Linked DNA regions of Homo sapiens: region 1 is linked to region 2. A link means that fine-mapping ties the variant in region 2 to the expression of a gene that starts in the linked region. Tissue or cell type: regulatory T cells. Region 2 holds a variant in brackets; the other region holds the start of a gene. All regions are shown on one strand. Distances are between the middles of the regions.

What was found. PIP is the estimated chance that this variant, and not a neighbour inherited with it, causes the effect.
Region 1: it holds the start of PSMD2, and the variant in region 2 is fine-mapped to the expression of PSMD2 in regulatory T cells (Schmiedel 2018, PIP 0.95).

Annotation. Positions count from the first base shown.
Region 1 is chr3:184,295,812-184,303,915 of GRCh38, forward strand. PSMD2 (proteasome 26S subunit ubiquitin receptor, non-ATPase 2) reads left to right here and starts at 3,430. Exons shown (of 21, transcript NM_002808.5): 1 at 3,430-3,590; 2 at 4,040-4,096; 3 at 4,469-4,633; 4 at 5,726-5,847; 5 at 6,036-6,260; 6 at 6,559-6,717; 7 at 6,868-7,012; 8 at 7,191-7,251; 9 at 7,509-7,655; 10 at 7,832-7,938. The coding sequence starts at 3,456. RefSeq lists a silencer at 3,098-3,437.
Region 2 is chr3:184,415,107-184,423,210 of GRCh38, forward strand. It overlaps LINC02054 (long intergenic non-protein coding RNA 2054), which reads left to right. Exons shown (of 4, transcript NR_161199.1): 2 at 7,847-8,026. Among named protein-coding and RNA genes, the nearest start is that of LINC02054, 18 kb to the left of the region's middle. RefSeq lists an enhancer at 1,173-1,674. The variant TTTC/T (reference allele first, on the strand shown) is at 3,112.

The DNA.
Region 1 (8,104 bases), 120 kb before region 2:
TGAAACACACACATCTGTCTTCTGGGCAATTTCATCATGCTTCTGAGTGGGACCATCACCAGCAGGTGCATTTCCATGCAACCCAGATTCCCTGGGCAAGGCACATGTGACAACCAGACAGCTTCAGGAAACCTAAGCACACATTGAGCTGAAATCAAGCCAGGGAACACCTGTTTGTTGAACACTCTGCAGGTGCTTGGTTCCAGAGGCAAGCCAAGGTGAACATCAGGTAAGAGATGTAACCTTTACCCTTAGTAGCCCTGTCAGGCTGAGTATGCGTATGTGATATGCTCTGGTGTGTCCAGGCAGAAGGGGAAATAAGGGATGGTGCTCCTCGGTGGACACAGGGAAGCAATTATAGGTAAAGTGCTAGGCCATCCCTTATGCAGTCCCATTGGTAAGTCTAACTAATTCCCATCCACAATAAGCTAACATATGCCAAGAAGTATGATTTCACACCCTTGATAGCACTTTGGAAATGTCCGGGTGGAAGAGAGTCCCTCATAAAAATAAGCACAGTTTTCTGCAGGATTGGAGGTCCTATTTTTTTTTTTTAATTAAAAAAAGCAGGCTGGGCGCAGTGGCTCATGCCTGTAATCCCAGCACTTCGGGAGGCTGAGGTGGGTGGATCACTATGTCAGGAGTTCAAGACCAGCAGGAGAATCGCTTGAACCCGGGAGGCGGAGGTTGCAGTGAGCCGAGATCGTGCCACTACACTCCAGGCTGGGCGACAGTGGGAGACTCCATCTCAAAAAAAAAAAAAAAAAAAAAAAAAAAAAAAAAAAAAGCAGTTTTAGTGGGTCTATCATGATTTACAAATGGAGAAACCTCATGATTTTCCAGTGCCTAGTTCTGGCCTCCAAAGACAGCTCCCAGTGGGTTGTTATTATACACAAAGATGGCCTGAAGATGAATGCAAAGCCATTCATTCATTCATTCATTCCGCATGCATGCATTCTGCAAATATTTATCAAGGCTCACTACAAGCCAGGCGCTAGGCTGGAGGCTAGGAGCATAAAGATGAATAAGACACAGTTCCAGGCCGGGCGCAGTGGCTCATGCCTGTAATTCCAGCACTTTGGGAGGCCAAGGCAGGCAGATAACTTGAGGTCAGGAGTTCAAGACCAGCCTGGCCAACATGGTGAATCCCCGTCTCGACTAAAAATACAAACATTAGCGGGGTGTGGTGGTGCATGCCTGTAGTCCCAGTTACTTGGGAGGCTGAAGCAGGAAAATCACCTGAACCCGGGAGGCAGAGGTTGCAGCAAGCTGAGATCATGCCACTGCACTCCAGCCTGGACGACAGAGCGAGACTCCGTCTGGAAAAAAAAAAAAAAAAGAAGAAGGAAGTCATGGATAAAGAGGAGTTTTAGAAAAAAATCCCTCTACAGATGACTGAAGAAAGCATGAAAATGTATGGACACCGTGAAGCCAGAGATAGAATAGGCAGAACAGTTATGGACTGTTGAATTTTTGTCTGCAGACCAGCGCTGGGGGAGTCATTGGCAATGGCAATGGAAGGTCATGCCTAGAATCCAAGCACTGAGTGGAAAAGAGCAACAGGTATTTAAAATGGATTCAGACCTTTACTTCCGTATCTACACAAACATTTACCCAACATTCACTCTGTGATATGTTGTACTAGGTGTCTTTTTCTTCAATGTGTCAGAACCCATAAAATAAGATTGCTAGAAGACTCCTGAGTGTTCCCACTAGGTGAAAGGGAGAAGAGATACTTCCTTTTTTCTCACCTTACACGCACACACACACACACACAGCTGAAGAAGAAACTCTGGGGTTTGCCTAAAACAGTCAAGGGCTTTGAAGACTGAAAGACTGAGCTTTAAATTTTGATTCCGCCGGGCGCGGTGGCTCACGCTTGTAATCCCAGAACTTTGGGAGGCCGAGGCGGGCGGATCACCTGAGGTCGGGAGTTGGAGACCAGCCTGACCAACATGGAGAAACCCCGTCTCTACTAAAAATACAAAAATTAGCCGGGCGTGGTGGCACAAAAATTCAACAGTCCATAACTGTTCTGCCTATTCTATCTCTGGCTTCACGGTGTCCATACATTTTCATGCTTTCTTCAGTCATCTGTAGAGGGATTTTTTTCTAAAACTCCTCTTTATCCAGCTACTCGGGAGGCTGAGGCAGGAGAATCACTTGCACCCGGGAGGCGAAGGTTGTGGTGAGCCGAGATTGCGCCATTGCACTCCAGCCTGGGCAACAGGAGAGAAACACTATCTCAAAACAAATAAATAAAATAAAAAATAAATCCTCATTTTACTACTTGATATGATCTTCTCTGTAAAATGGACCTAACCCTACCAATCTCAAAAGATTGTAAGAAGTGCATGGAATCACTCGAAAGCAGTCCTGACATAAGCGCGTCAGTCACACGCCTCTAAGGCTTCACAGGGAAAGACGAGAAGATAGAGGACGAAGACCTTGTCTTGTTCTGCTTTTAGCTCCAGAACTTGGCGGGGAGCACAGGGCTTTATTGATCGATGTCAACTCCACCTGGCTCCCCAAAGTATTTAAAATGGTAGCCACGGGAATAGCAGAGTACTCTCTTTCAACTGGGGAGGAATATCAAATGAGGTTAATAGGCCGGGCGCGGTGGTTCACACCTGTAATTACAGCTCTTTGGGAGGCTGAGGCGGGCAGATCACTTGAGGTCAGGAGTTCGAGACCAGCCTGGCCAACATAGTGAAACCCCCGTCTCTACTAAAAAATACAAAAATTAGCTGGGCGTGGTGGCGGGCGCCTGTAATCCCAGCTACTCGGGAGGTTGAGGCACGAGAATCACTTGAACCTGGTAGGCGGAGTTTGCAGTGAGCCGAGATCGCGCCACTGCACTCCAGCCTGGGCGAGAGAGCGAGCCTCCTTCTCAAAAGCAACAACAACAACAAAACCAAATGAGGTTAATATTCCACAGTGGTGTGGGGCTAGACACAGTTACACAGACTTTATACAGGCGGCAATCAAGCGTCCTGGACGTCAAGAAATCTAGTTTGTCTGTCGCGCCACGCAGTCAACTGGAGTGTCACTGTGGGTTCTATTTACACCGTTATGAGAAAAACCTGTGGCGGAGTAAAACTCGGTAACTCCGCTCGCAGACCGCCCATCTACAGCAGTGAGCGAACCCAAACCCCACACGGCCAAGTCCCGCGGGTTTCAGGAAACTCCGAAGAGGTCGGGGGCCAGGGGCGACTATGGCGCGGGGGAGGCTGGGAATTGTAGTCTCCACCTGCCTCCGAGGGCGGGGTCCGAGGGCGGGGCTCTCAGGCCGAGGGGGTGGGTGGGTCGCCGAGCGCCCCGGCTCGCCCCGGCGTTTCCGGTCGCAGGCGGGCTCTGGAGGAGGAGGGGCGCCGCGACCGACGCGCGCGAGTTGGTCTGGGAAAAAGGGCGGTGCGAGCGGGTGCGCGCGCAGCGGGCCGGCAGTGGCGGCGGAGATGGAGGAGGGAGGCCGGGACAAGGCGCCGGTGCAGCCCCAGCAGTCTCCAGCGGCGGCCCCCGGCGGCACGGACGAGAAGCCGAGCGGCAAGGAGCGGCGGGATGCCGGGGACAAGGACAAAGAACAGGAGCTGGTGAGGCGCGACCCCGAGAGTCGGCGAAGGAGGCTGCGGGGCTGAGTCACGGCGGCTCCGCAGGCCTCAGGCCCGACACCCAACTACCCCACCGCGCCAGGGAGAGGGCGGTTGGGGCGACCCTCGGGACTCCCGGCACCTTGCCTCTCTGCTCCTCATTCTCCGTTCCGCGCTGTCACCTCCGCCGTCCCCACCAACCCTCACCACCGCCGCGTGAAGTGGACTCGGGCAGGTCATTGTCACCTCCGTTTCCTAGAGTGGCATTCAAGTAGAGCCTGATTCAGAACCCAGGCTGATTTCTCACCAGGGCTTCCCATTCCCACTCGGTTTCCTTGTCCACCTGGCCCCTCCTAAGGAGGCAGGCTTATTCTTCACCTGCCCCGGGTAAGTGGGAGGAGGACGTCTTTGGGATTCCTTCTCTTCATGAGCTGCTTCTCCCAACCCTCCAGTCTGAAGAGGATAAACAGCTTCAAGATGAACTGGAGATGCTCGTGGAACGACTAGGGGTGAGTCACGATGTTAACATGATTCGGTGCATGTTTGGATCTTTCCCACTTGTTTTATTCTTTTTTGAGGCAACTGCTATGTACGGTGGACTGTATTTTAGGGTCAGTGTTATGATGATGTTGGGAGGCAGGAGAGTTACAAAGGGTATTTGTACAGTTTTGCAGCTTTCTCTTGTGGGAGAAGCAGAGTTCTTACCTCTTAACTTGGGTCATTTGTTTTTGTGCCAGGCAGGGTGCAGGGAGTTGAGGAATCACAGATGAATGAATAAGACACAGCATTTCCTTGGAGGAGTTGTTAAGTTAAATATCTCTGTATTATGACTTGAAGGGGTGTGACTCCTTTTTGTCTGAGCCCTGTCGTCTCTTGATCAGGAGAAGGATACATCCCTGTATCGACCAGCGCTGGAGGAATTGCGAAGGCAGATTCGTTCTTCTACAACTTCCATGACTTCAGTGCCCAAGCCTCTCAAATTTCTGCGTCCACACTATGGCAAACTGAAGGAAATCTATGAGAACATGGCCCCTGGGGAGAATAAGGTAAAACTGTTTCAAACCTGGTGGAGGCCTAGTTTAGGAATTCCTTTTTACCCAGATCATGGGGGGACTCATTGTGAGTCACAGGAAGCCTGATAGACCTAAGCCGTGATCTATTTGAGCAGAGTTCATCACAGTCAAAATATCTACAGAAGAGCTGAAAGGAAGGTCAGCTTCTCAGAAGACACTGTTTCTGTCATGTGTATTGGACTTTGGGGTTTCATTAGCATGGTCTACTTTTAACGTATGTTTAACCTTGATTTTTCTCTTTTCTTCTATCCCATATACATTCATTTATCTCTAAAATATGTTCCACATTCAGTCACTTCTCTGCCTGCTGGTACAACCCTAATCCTGGAAATGTTCAGTTTTTGCATGGGTTATTGCAGCACCTCTTAACTGATGTTGTTGCTTTTGTGCTTTGTTCCTACACAGTCTGTCTCTCATGTAGCAGCTATCGTGATCTTTCTCGGTTATAGGTCTTTTCTGCTTAAGACCTTTTAATAGTTTATAATTGCAATTAAAGTAAAATTGAGAGCCTCCATTTTTTTCCACTTTATCCCTCATTTATCACCCTTCAGCTGTGTTAGTTTAAAAGGAAGACAGTGGCTGGGTGTGGTGGCTCACACCTGTAACCCTAGCACTTTGGGAGGCCGAGGGGTGGATCACCTGAGGTCAGGAGTTTTAGACCATCCTGGCCAACATGGTGAAACCCCGTCTCTACTAAAAATTAAAAAAAAAAAAATTAGCTGGGTGTGGTGGTGGGCGCCTGTAATCCCAGCTACTTAGGAAGCTGAGGCAGGAGAATCACTTGAACCCCGGAGGCAGAGGTTGCAGTGAACCGAGAGCACACCATTGCACTCCAGCCTGGGCAGCAAGAGCGAAACTGAGTCTCAAAAAAAAAAAAAAAAGGAGATAGCAACAACACCAACCTTGGTTTTTGTGAGGTTTAGCTTACATAACATGTTAAATTTCTAGTACAGAGATTGGTATGTAGTTAGTTCAGTTTCGGAGACAATGATCTTGATTCCACAATGCATGCTCCCTTTATGCTGGACTGCTGGGTTTGACTTCAAAGAACTCTTTTCTTTATAGCGTTTTGCTGCTGACATCATCTCCGTTTTGGCCATGACCATGAGTGGGGAGCGTGAGTGCCTCAAGTATCGGCTAGTGGGCTCCCAGGAGGAATTGGCATCATGGGGTCATGAGTATGTCAGGTAAGATCTTTCTTCTTGGGAATCCGAAGGGGGCTCTGAGGCTCTGAGATAATTCAGAATTTTCTTGTGGAGTACAATCTGTCTTGGAGCATCAGTGTATTGAATTTCCCAGACGCTGGATTCCTTGACCCACAGAGAAGTGCTTCCCCTGAAGCTGTGCTCTCTTAATCGTCTGGGACTATCTGTAGGCATCTGGCAGGAGAAGTGGCTAAGGAGTGGCAGGAGCTGGATGACGCAGAGAAGGTCCAGCGGGAGCCTCTGCTCACTCTGGTGAAGGAAATCGTCCCCTATAACATGGCCCACAATGCAGAGCATGAGGCTTGCGACCTGCTTATGGAAATTGAGCAGGTGGACATGCTGGAGAAGGACATTGATGAAAATGCATATGCAAAGGTCTGCCTTTATCTCACCAGGTGAGTGAACATGGTAGGGAAGGGTGGCAGGCATGCCCTCCTCAGCACCTCTCTCTCAATTGCGCCTCCTCTATTTTCCCAGAGCATTTGCTCAAGCATAGCATCACGCTGTAGTTAATCTTTTGATGTGTGTGAGTTTCTTGAGGACAGAGACTTTGTGTCTTCTTAGTAGTTCTAACATCTAGCACAGTGCCTGGTGTATATAGTAGATATTTATTATTTATTTTGGGTAAGTGAATTCATGGGGAAAATGAGTGCCTGGGACTTTCTGAATTCTTTGTTACTTTTACTTTTGTAGTTGTGTGAATTACGTGCCTGAGCCTGAGAACTCAGCCCTACTGCGTTGTGCCCTGGGTGTGTTCCGAAAGTTTAGCCGCTTCCCTGAAGCTCTGAGATTGGCATTGATGCTCAATGACATGGAGTTGGTAGAAGACATCTTCACCTCCTGCAAGGATGTGTATGTAGGGAAGAAGCTGGCAAAGAGATAAGCTTACGAATAGGACACTTGCATAAAGAGCTGGGACTTGTAGTTTCTGGTTAGGGCTTGAGGGGTTTTCCTGTGCCCTTAGTGGACAGTGATGAGCAGATGTACGGGCTCTCTCCACAGGGTAGTACAGAAACAGATGGCATTCATGCTAGGCCGGCATGGGGTGTTCCTGGAGCTGAGTGAAGATGTCGAGGAGTATGAGGACCTGACAGAGATCATGTCCAATGTACAGCTCAACAGCAACTTCTTGGCCTTAGCTCGGGAGGTGAGACTGCCCTTTTTTCATCAAGGCCTTTTCGTCATAATTCTACCTGCCATTTCACCTCCCTGACTCTACCTCTGACTAGACTCTCCTTGATTAGAATTGCCATTCAGTGGGATAGCAGAAGGGACAGCTGGGGGAGTTCTAGGGAAGCAATTGTGACCCTCTGACTTCTCTTCAGCTGGACATCATGGAGCCCAAGGTGCCTGATGACATCTACAAAACCCACCTAGAGAACAACAGTGAGTAGCCCTCTCTGTGTATGGGATTTGGGGGATTGTAGGTATGCCCCTTGTATTGGGAGTGATGGCTTGGCCAACATGCTTATCCTATCGAGCTCAGAATCCTCATGAATCTTTTTCAGGTCACTGCTTGGGGGGGTATAGGTAGAGGATACTAAGGGACTAGCTCAGAACCAGAGACCAGTTGCCATGCTGTGTTTCTTTCCTGTCCTACCTGAAACCTTCTTTCCTTACTTTTCCTCTCCCTCCTGTTGCAGGGTTTGGGGGCAGTGGCTCTCAGGTGGACTCTGCCCGCATGAACCTGGCCTCCTCTTTTGTGAATGGCTTTGTGAATGCAGCTTTTGGCCAAGACAAGCTGCTAACAGATGATGGCAACAAATGGCTTTACAAGAACAAGGACCACGGTATAATTCTGTTCCTGCTTTGTCTTTTGTTTTGCTTTGATCACTTCTTTTGTCCTCTTGGAGTCATAAGTTATCTGACAAGGGATCCACCATGCAGTTCTTTGGAGAGCTCTTTATAATAACAGGATCCTCAGGATAGGGCCATTTTAAGACTAATAGATTCTTCCCTGGTATAGGAATGTTGAGTGCAGCTGCATCTCTTGGGATGATTCTGCTGTGGGATGTGGATGGTGGCCTCACCCAGATTGACAAGTACCTGTACTCCTCTGAGGACTACATTAAGGTTGGTCTGCATACAGCCTGCTCATGGGGACTTCCCCGTTCCATATTCTAGTGCCTAGCAGTGCCTCTCTTTCACTGATGAGGTCTGCCCAGTTTTTAACTCTAGTTAATAAGGGTGCTGCAGTGAGGCCCATGTTGCATCCTTTGCGGTGAGGAAGATAGAGTAT
Region 2 (8,104 bases):
GGTAATCCTATTAGACCTAAACCAAAGGGGCAGGCTTTCCCCTAGATGGATCATGAAGACGCAAAACCGTGGGGTGGGCTGGCAGGGTCACCCGAAAGTGAGGAGCACTGCCATCTGTTTTCTCTTCCCTCTTAGTGATAACATGAAGGAATTGTCCCGAACAAGTGCATTTCCCTTCGGTAGGCCTCACTACCGAGGCTATTGATCAGCTTACTCTATTACCACATCAAAGGAAAATGCCATCATGGGTGGCTCCGGCAGAGCATTTGGGTTCTTGGTGATTTTGCTAAGAATCTCTGAGGAGAGGCAATGAAGGCTCTTAATTGCATATTTCCTGTGTACTCATCCTTCTTCTCCAAAACAAATGACATTAGCTTTCTTTTTTTTTTTTCTTTTTTTTTTTTGAGATGGGAGTCTCTCTCTGTCACCCAGGCTGGAGTGCTGTGGCACTATCTTGGCTCACTGCAACCTCCGCCCCCTGGGTTCAAGCAATTCTCCTGTCTCAGCCTCCCGAGTAGCTGGGACTACAGGCGCCTGCCACCATGCCCAGCTAATTTTTGTGTTTTTAGTAGAGACGGGGTTTTACCATATAGGTCAGGCTGCTCTCGAGTTCCTGACCTCAGGTGATCTGCCTGCCTTGGCCTCCCAAAGTGCTGGGATTATATGCGTGAGCCACCGAGCCTGGCCTAACTTTCTATTTCAACTGCACAGAACTACCCATACGTGTCAGCAGGGGCCTACTTTCCTTCACATTAGGTTTTCACAGTCTTTTCCCTCTGCCTGGAATACCTGCTCTGCCTTTTCTGCTCCAGCTAGGTTGGCATATTTGCAGGTTTCAAATCTGCCTGTCATATTCCATCCTCAGAGCCTTTACGATGACTGTTCCGTCTGCCTGGAATGTTCCGCCCTGACGTTTCCGCATGGCTTGCCCTTCATTTCATTCAATCTCCACATTTCCACTCAAATCCTACCTCTCAGCCATCACTGTCAATTGCCCTCCACCCGAAGACCACCAGGATCCCACCTATAGTGGAGCACTTGGGGTTTATGGCTGGTTGCAGTGAAGGGGAACGCACGCCATGGGGCACTGTGGGCGTATCAGTGAGGGGGTGTCAGAAAGAACTTGTAGGGTTTGGGCTTGTTTCTGTCTAGTTCCATCACAGCCACAGAGTGGCCTTGTCTGATGTTGATGTTCTGTGAAACTGTTTATGTTCAACAGGAGAGCACCATGGGCCTGCAGTGAGTGCCAGGCCAAGGTCTGGACAGCAAGAACTGCTTTACTCTTCTTCACCACTGAATCCTTAGTGCATAGAACAGCAGCTGCAGGGAGGGTGGCAGGTGTCGAATGAAAACGTATCGAATGAATCGATCAAGTCTGTCTGCCTGGCAAATTCTTACTCCACATTCAAGTGCCCAGCCAGAAGCCCCTCTTCTGGGTGCCGTCCCTGACTCTCCTGGGCGGACCCTGATCTGGGCCCGGGCTGTGCCTGCAGAGTCTCACTAGAGCGGCTCCTGTGAGTCATGTCAGGGGGCTCTGCAGCCAGTCTCCCCACTGTGCTGCGAATGCCTTGAAGGCAGAGACACATCCCTTCCCTTAGAAGCCCCAGTGCTAAATACAGAGCAGGTGCGCCATAACTTTAGTGTGACTGACAGACCAGCTGCAGGCCCAGCTCTGCTGTGTTTGAACTGTGCCTCTGGCAGGGGCTCCAGAATTCTGTGTGTGTTCCCTGAGAGTATAGGACCTGTGGGCCACTGGGTGGGAAATCATTAAACAGGAGAAGCCCAGGCCCCAGCAGCCAGAGGGTATGTTTGTGAGTTTGTGATTCTCTGGGACACCTTCAGGGCCTGAGGACTTTGGCCCCCATGTGAGGCCTCTGCAGTGTGACTCCATCTGGGCCTGGCTCCTCCTCAAAAAATGCCCCCAACCAGGAGCGGTGGCTCACGCATGTAATCCCAGCACTTTGGGAGGCCAAGGCGGGCGGATCACCTGAGGTCAGGAGTTTGAGACCAGCTTGGCCAACATGGTGAAATCCCACCTTTACTAAAAATACAAAAATTAGCCAGGCATAGTGGCACACGCCTGTAGTCCCAGCCACTCTGGAGGCTGAGACGGGAGAATCACTTGAACCCAGGAGGCAGAGATTGCAGCAAGCCAAGATCGCACCACCACATTCCAGCTTGGGTGACAGACTGACTCTGTCTCAAAAAAAAAAAAAAAAAAAAAAAAAGACCCCCATCCCTGTCGCCCAAGGCCCAGAGGAGGCTGATGGAAGCCCGCAGTTTCCAGGAAGGGCAGAGGAAGAGGCAGTAAGAGCCCAGGCACCTCCAAAACAGGGGCCATGGGCGGGGGGCGGAGAGGGAGGAGGGACCTGGTTATCTGGCTCTATTCTCACAGCAACCCCTTAAGGTATATACAACTATTATCTTTATTTTACAGATGAAGAAACAGAGGCACAAAGAGGTTAAGTAACTTGCCTAGAGATACACAGCTAACAAGTGGCAAGTGGGATTTGGACTCAGGTCTATCTAATCCTCAAACCCATGTCCTGGACCCCTACACAGACTGCCCTCCCTCAGTCCTCTGTGTGGCCTCAAGAAGGGTCTGGACATTCAAGTTTAAAAATCCATCCAAAGAATCTATGGACCCAGTGGTCTCTGGAGTCAATGTTCTGAGGCTCAGAAGGGCCAGGCAGGAGGGAGCCGCCTCTACACAGTCCTGAGCAGAGTGGGCTGTGTCCCGGCACAGCAGGGGAGATCATAGACAGAATTCTGCCCTGGGCCCTATTTAAGTAGGACCTTTAGGCTGCCGGTGTCATGACCACAGGTCCCAGGTCTGCACGATTGGCTGTGTGTGGAAAATCTTCACTCCTTGCGGCCTTGTCCTTGGCAGAGAGCACCGCTGCTTCCTCTGATGGCCACCAGGGGGAGGCGCTCCCCTGGGAACGGTTTGAAGGGGAGCCTCACCCCACACGTGCCTTCCGTGGTACCCAGCACCAGCTGCTACCCATGGTTACCCACAGGCCCAGCTCTGCTCTGAGGAGGGAGGAGTGGTGGCGATCAGGCCTTGTCTGCATCCCGTGGCTGCCCCTTTCTTTTCTTTCTTTCTTTCTT[TTTC/T]TTTTTTTTTTTTTTTTTGAGATGGAGTCTCACTCTGTTGCCCAGGCTAGAGTGCAATGGCACAGTCTCGGCTCACTGCAACCTCTGCCTCCCAGGTTCAAGCGATTCTCCTGCCTCAGCCTCCCAAGTAGCTGGGATTACAGGCATGCGCCACCACGCCCAGCTAATTTTTGTATTTTTAGTAGAGACGGGGTTTCACCATGTTGGCCAGGCTGGTCTTGAACTGCTGACCTCAGGTGATCCACCCACCTCGGCCTCCCGAAGTGCTGAGATTACAGGCGTGAGCCACCGCCCCCAGACGTGGCCTCCCCTTTCAAAGAATAACCCTCAGCGTGTGTGTGTGTGTGTGTGTGTGTGTGTGTGTGTGTGTGACTGGGGAACACACGGGCTCAGTCTGTTATCCTGAGAGGAAATTCATAGTGAAGCATAAAAGCCCCTGAGTGGGCTGGGGACAGTGGCTCACACCTGTAATCTCAGCACTTTGGGAGGCCAAGGTGGGCAAATCATTTGAGGTCAGGAATTCAAGACCAGCGTGGCCAACATGGTGAGACCCTGTCTCTACTAAAAATACAAAACTTAGCCAGGTGTAGTGGCGCATGCCTGTCGTCACAGCTACTTGGGAGGCTGAGGCAGGAGAATCGCTTGAACCTGGGAGATGGAGGCTGCAGTGAGCCAAGATCCCACCACTGCACTCCAGCATGGGCAACAGAGTGAGACTCCATCTTTAAAAAAAAAAAATGCCTATTGGATTTTAATGAAACCATCTCTCCTCTTTTACCTGAATGAAAGCAGACATGGGACTTTCTACAGGTACGGCAGCCTCACAATTCAGTGCTGGACTTCCAGCCAAGACGGCAGAGTGGGCTCACGCTGTGGCCTCCTCTCTCTGTTCCAAACACACAGCAATCAGGAATAAAATAGAAAAAATGATAAACAAAAGGACATAGTTGGGCCCCAACCAAAATGGCTATCTCTGTGTACCACAAGCAGATCAGAAATGCAAATTGGTGACTGGGGCCAGGGGCCTGCTGGCCTCGGGGTCTGGAAACAGCAGTAGCTGCCAGACACAGAGCTCCTGGTAAGGGAGTTAAAGTGCTCCATGCTACAAAGGGGCCAACAGCCAGGTGTCTGGAAGCCAGGGCTCGGGGAAGGTTCCCTCTGCTTGTGAAAAGAATCGGGGGTGGCGGGGATGGAGTGAGGAAGCCAGCTGTCCACAAATAGCTTGGGGCTTGAGTTGTGGGAAGATGAGGACAGACTCTTGACTAGATGCTGAGCCAAGCCACCCTCTGGCTACGTGCTTGTAGCTGTGGTGTCCTCATGCCACAACAGAGTAGAGCCCTGCAATGCTATTGTAAGACCTCAACTGGGCCTGAGGTCCTAGCTCAGGATAGTTAGAGACAGAGTGAAAAACAGATGTAAAAACAAGGTGGAAAACCCTCCAACTCACTGTAAAGTTGTAAGCCAAAATAGATGAGAAACAATGGTAAGAAAAACAGTCAACAAGGCCGGGCGTGGTGGCTCGTGCCTGTAATCCCAGCACTTTGGGAGGTGAAGGTGGGAGGATCACCTGGGGTCAGGAGTTCAAGACCAGCCTGGCCAACATAGTGAAATCCCATCTTTAGAAAAAAAAAAAAGCAAGAAAGAAAAGCAGTCAACAGAATCACCATGTGGAATATGAGTTCACTGCAGATTAAATTAATTTTGTGAAAGTCTTACAAAGAATTAAAAATGTTTAGGATGCCAAAAATGGCAAATGAAGGCTTAATATCCATTGGAAATTAACAAGACATAAATGAAGGCAGATCAAAATGAAACTAGAACAAGTAGATGTGAAAAGAATCAATTAGAAATCTTAGAAATAGAAAGTTTGTTCATTAAAAGAAAGCTCAGTAGACAGAATAAATGATGCAAAAAGAGAATTATTGAGTTAGAAGACATTACTTAGGAATTAACATGAATACAATACACAAAGATTAAAAAATATAAAAGCAGTTATGAGATATGAAGGACAGCTTGCATGAAGGGCTATGTATGTCTAATAGGAGTTTCAGAGGAAGAGAATAAAGGGAATGGCAGTGAAAAATACATGAGGAAATAGTAGCTGAGAAATTTCCTTGGGGAAATTGCAGAACATCAAGGGCAAAGAGAATAAAACCTTACCATGGACCTGAGAAAAAGACAGATTACTTAAAAAGTAATTTCTGGACCTCAGCAAAGACTGAGGCTGGGGATGAGGGGGTAGTATCTTCAAAGTGCCAATTGGATTTTTATGCCCAGCTAACTTACAGTGGAAATTTAAGACAAAAGGGGCGTTTCGATACATGTAAAGTGCAGCCCCTCATTTAAAGAATTATTATAGGTTATACACTTCAGGAAGAAAAATGAACCAGAAAAAAAGGGGAGAGCACATGAAACACTGTTAAGCATAGAAATAGATAAAACATGTTGATAAATTTAAATGAGTGTTGACTACAACAGAAACTCCTTTATTTTTTATTTATTTATTTTTGAGACCGAGTCTCTGTCACCCAGGCTGGTGTGCAGTTTTGTGATCTCGGCTCACTGCAACCTCTGCCTCCCGAGTTCAAGCAATTCTCATGCCTTGGCCTCCTGAGTGGCTGGGACAGGCCTGGCTAATTTTTGCTTTTTTTTTTTTTGTTTTTTTGAGACGATGTCTTGCTCTGTCTCCAGGCAGGAGTGCAGTGGTGCTATCTCGGCTCACTGCAACCTCCGCCTCCTGGGTTCAAGGAATTCTCCTGTCTCAGCCTCCCGAGTAGCTGGGACTATAGGCACGCACCACCATGCCCAGCTAATTTTTGTATTTTTAGTATAGACGGGGTTTCACCATGTTGGCCAGGATGGTCTCAAACTCCTGACCTCGTGATCCGCCCGCCTTGGCCTCCCAAAGTGCTGGCATTACAGGCGTGAGCCACAGTGCCTGGCCTAATTTTTGCATTTTTAGTAGAGATGGGGTTTCACCATGTTTGTCAGGCTGTTCTTGAACTTCTGACCTCAGGTGATCCACCCTCCTCGGCCTCCCAAAGTGCTGGGATTTACAGGCATGAGCCACCATGACTGGCCAAAAACTCATTTAAACTTCTCATTTTTATTAAAGATATACATATTCATGTTTTTTTAGAACTCAAATAACTCTGCAGGGCTTATGTGGGAGCCAGCTTCTGGTCTGGCCCCAGTGATCCTCACCTCCTGGTGCTCATGCCCTTGTGTCACACCTTTCCACAATGAATAGGGCTGATCTGTGTAACCGGTAGGGTGGTGCAGAAAATAATGGTGTGTGACATCTCAGCTTAAGTGATGACAGACATTGCAGCTTCCACCTGTTTATTATTGTTATTATTGTTATTATTTTTGAGATAGGATCTCACTCTGTCGCCCAGGCTGGAGTGCAGTGGCACAATCGTGGCTCACTGCAGCCTTGACCTCCTGGGTGCAAGCGATCCTCCTGCCTCAGCCACCTGAGTAGCTGGGACTAGAGGTATGTGTCACCACTCCCAGCATATTTTATTGTTGTTTCAATCAGTTATTGTTATTTCAATAGTAATAGAGAACTGATACACTCACTTATGAACATAAATACAAAAGTCATAAATAAAATATGAGCAAAATGAATTAACTAGCCTATTTTTAGAGTTTAATACTAGAATGTAAGAATGTTTAACTTAATTTATGAATACTACTCACCATATTAAAAAATTAAAGGAGAAAATATTGATCATCTTAATAGATGCAGAAAATTCATGTGATAAAAAATTATATCCATTCATGGTAAAACTTAACCAAATTTGGAATAAAAGGAAGCTTTTTGAACATGATAAGGGTTATCTACCAAAAATCACCAGCAAACAAACTCAAATGGCACAAATCTTTTTTTTTTTTTTTTTTTTGAGATGTAGTCTTGCTCTGTCGCCCAGGCTGGAGTGCAGTGGTGCCATCTCAGCTCACTGTAACTTTTGCCTCCTGGGTTCAAGTGATTCTCCTGCCTCAGCCTCCTGAGTAGCTGAGACCACAGGCACCCACCACCAAACCTGGCTAGTTTTTGTATTTTTAGTAGAGATGGGGTTTCACCACATTGGCCAGGCTGGTCTTGAACTCCTGACCTCAGGTGATCTGCCTGCCTTGGCCTTCTGAAGTGCTGGGATTACAGGTGTGAGCCACCACGCCCAGCCCAGAAGCATTCTTTTAAACTCAGGAGTAAAACAAGGATGGCTGTTCTCATCACGTCTTTTCCACATTGGAGAACCTAGCCTATGCAATAATATAAGAAAAATGGTATAAGAATTGGAAAGGAAGAAATCCAAATGTGGCTAACCTCAAAAACATAAAGTTGAGCAAAAAATCACTTTGTATCACTTTGTAAAATGACATACAGAATGTGATACATTTTATATATAGTTTGAAAACGTAATGGGTATGTAGTTACATATATTTTATATAGTATAAACATACAGGAGAAAGATAAATGTCAGAATTCCATAGAGCTGGGTGTTGGGTGCTTGGGTGTCAGATATGTTAGTGTCTTTACTTTTTTGTTTGAAATATTGTAAAAGGAATAACAATCCAGATTTATGTAACTTAGTTAAGAAAGAATGGCCTCTGAGCTCCTTGTGTGTGCAAATTTCATGATTCTAGGGTTCTTGACATCCCTGTCCTGCTATATTGTGAACTCCCTGACCTTAGGGGCATTGTCTTTTTTTGCTCTTTATATTTCTAGGGCCTAGCATGGTATAGATGTTCAACCTGTGTTTGTTGACTGACTGAGTGAATGGAGAAAGAGGGAAATGCAAAAGAAAGAAGGAAAGGAGGAGGATGGATATGAACTCTGAGACAATTCTTTGACTGCCTGCATCTGACATGGACTTGTATGGAAAGAAGCAGATGGGTTTAAGCAAAGGTAGGGAAATTAGCTCAGCTGGACTTCAGGCATGATTAGAGGAAGAAGTCCAGGATGTTTTGTGAGCCTCCCAGTAGA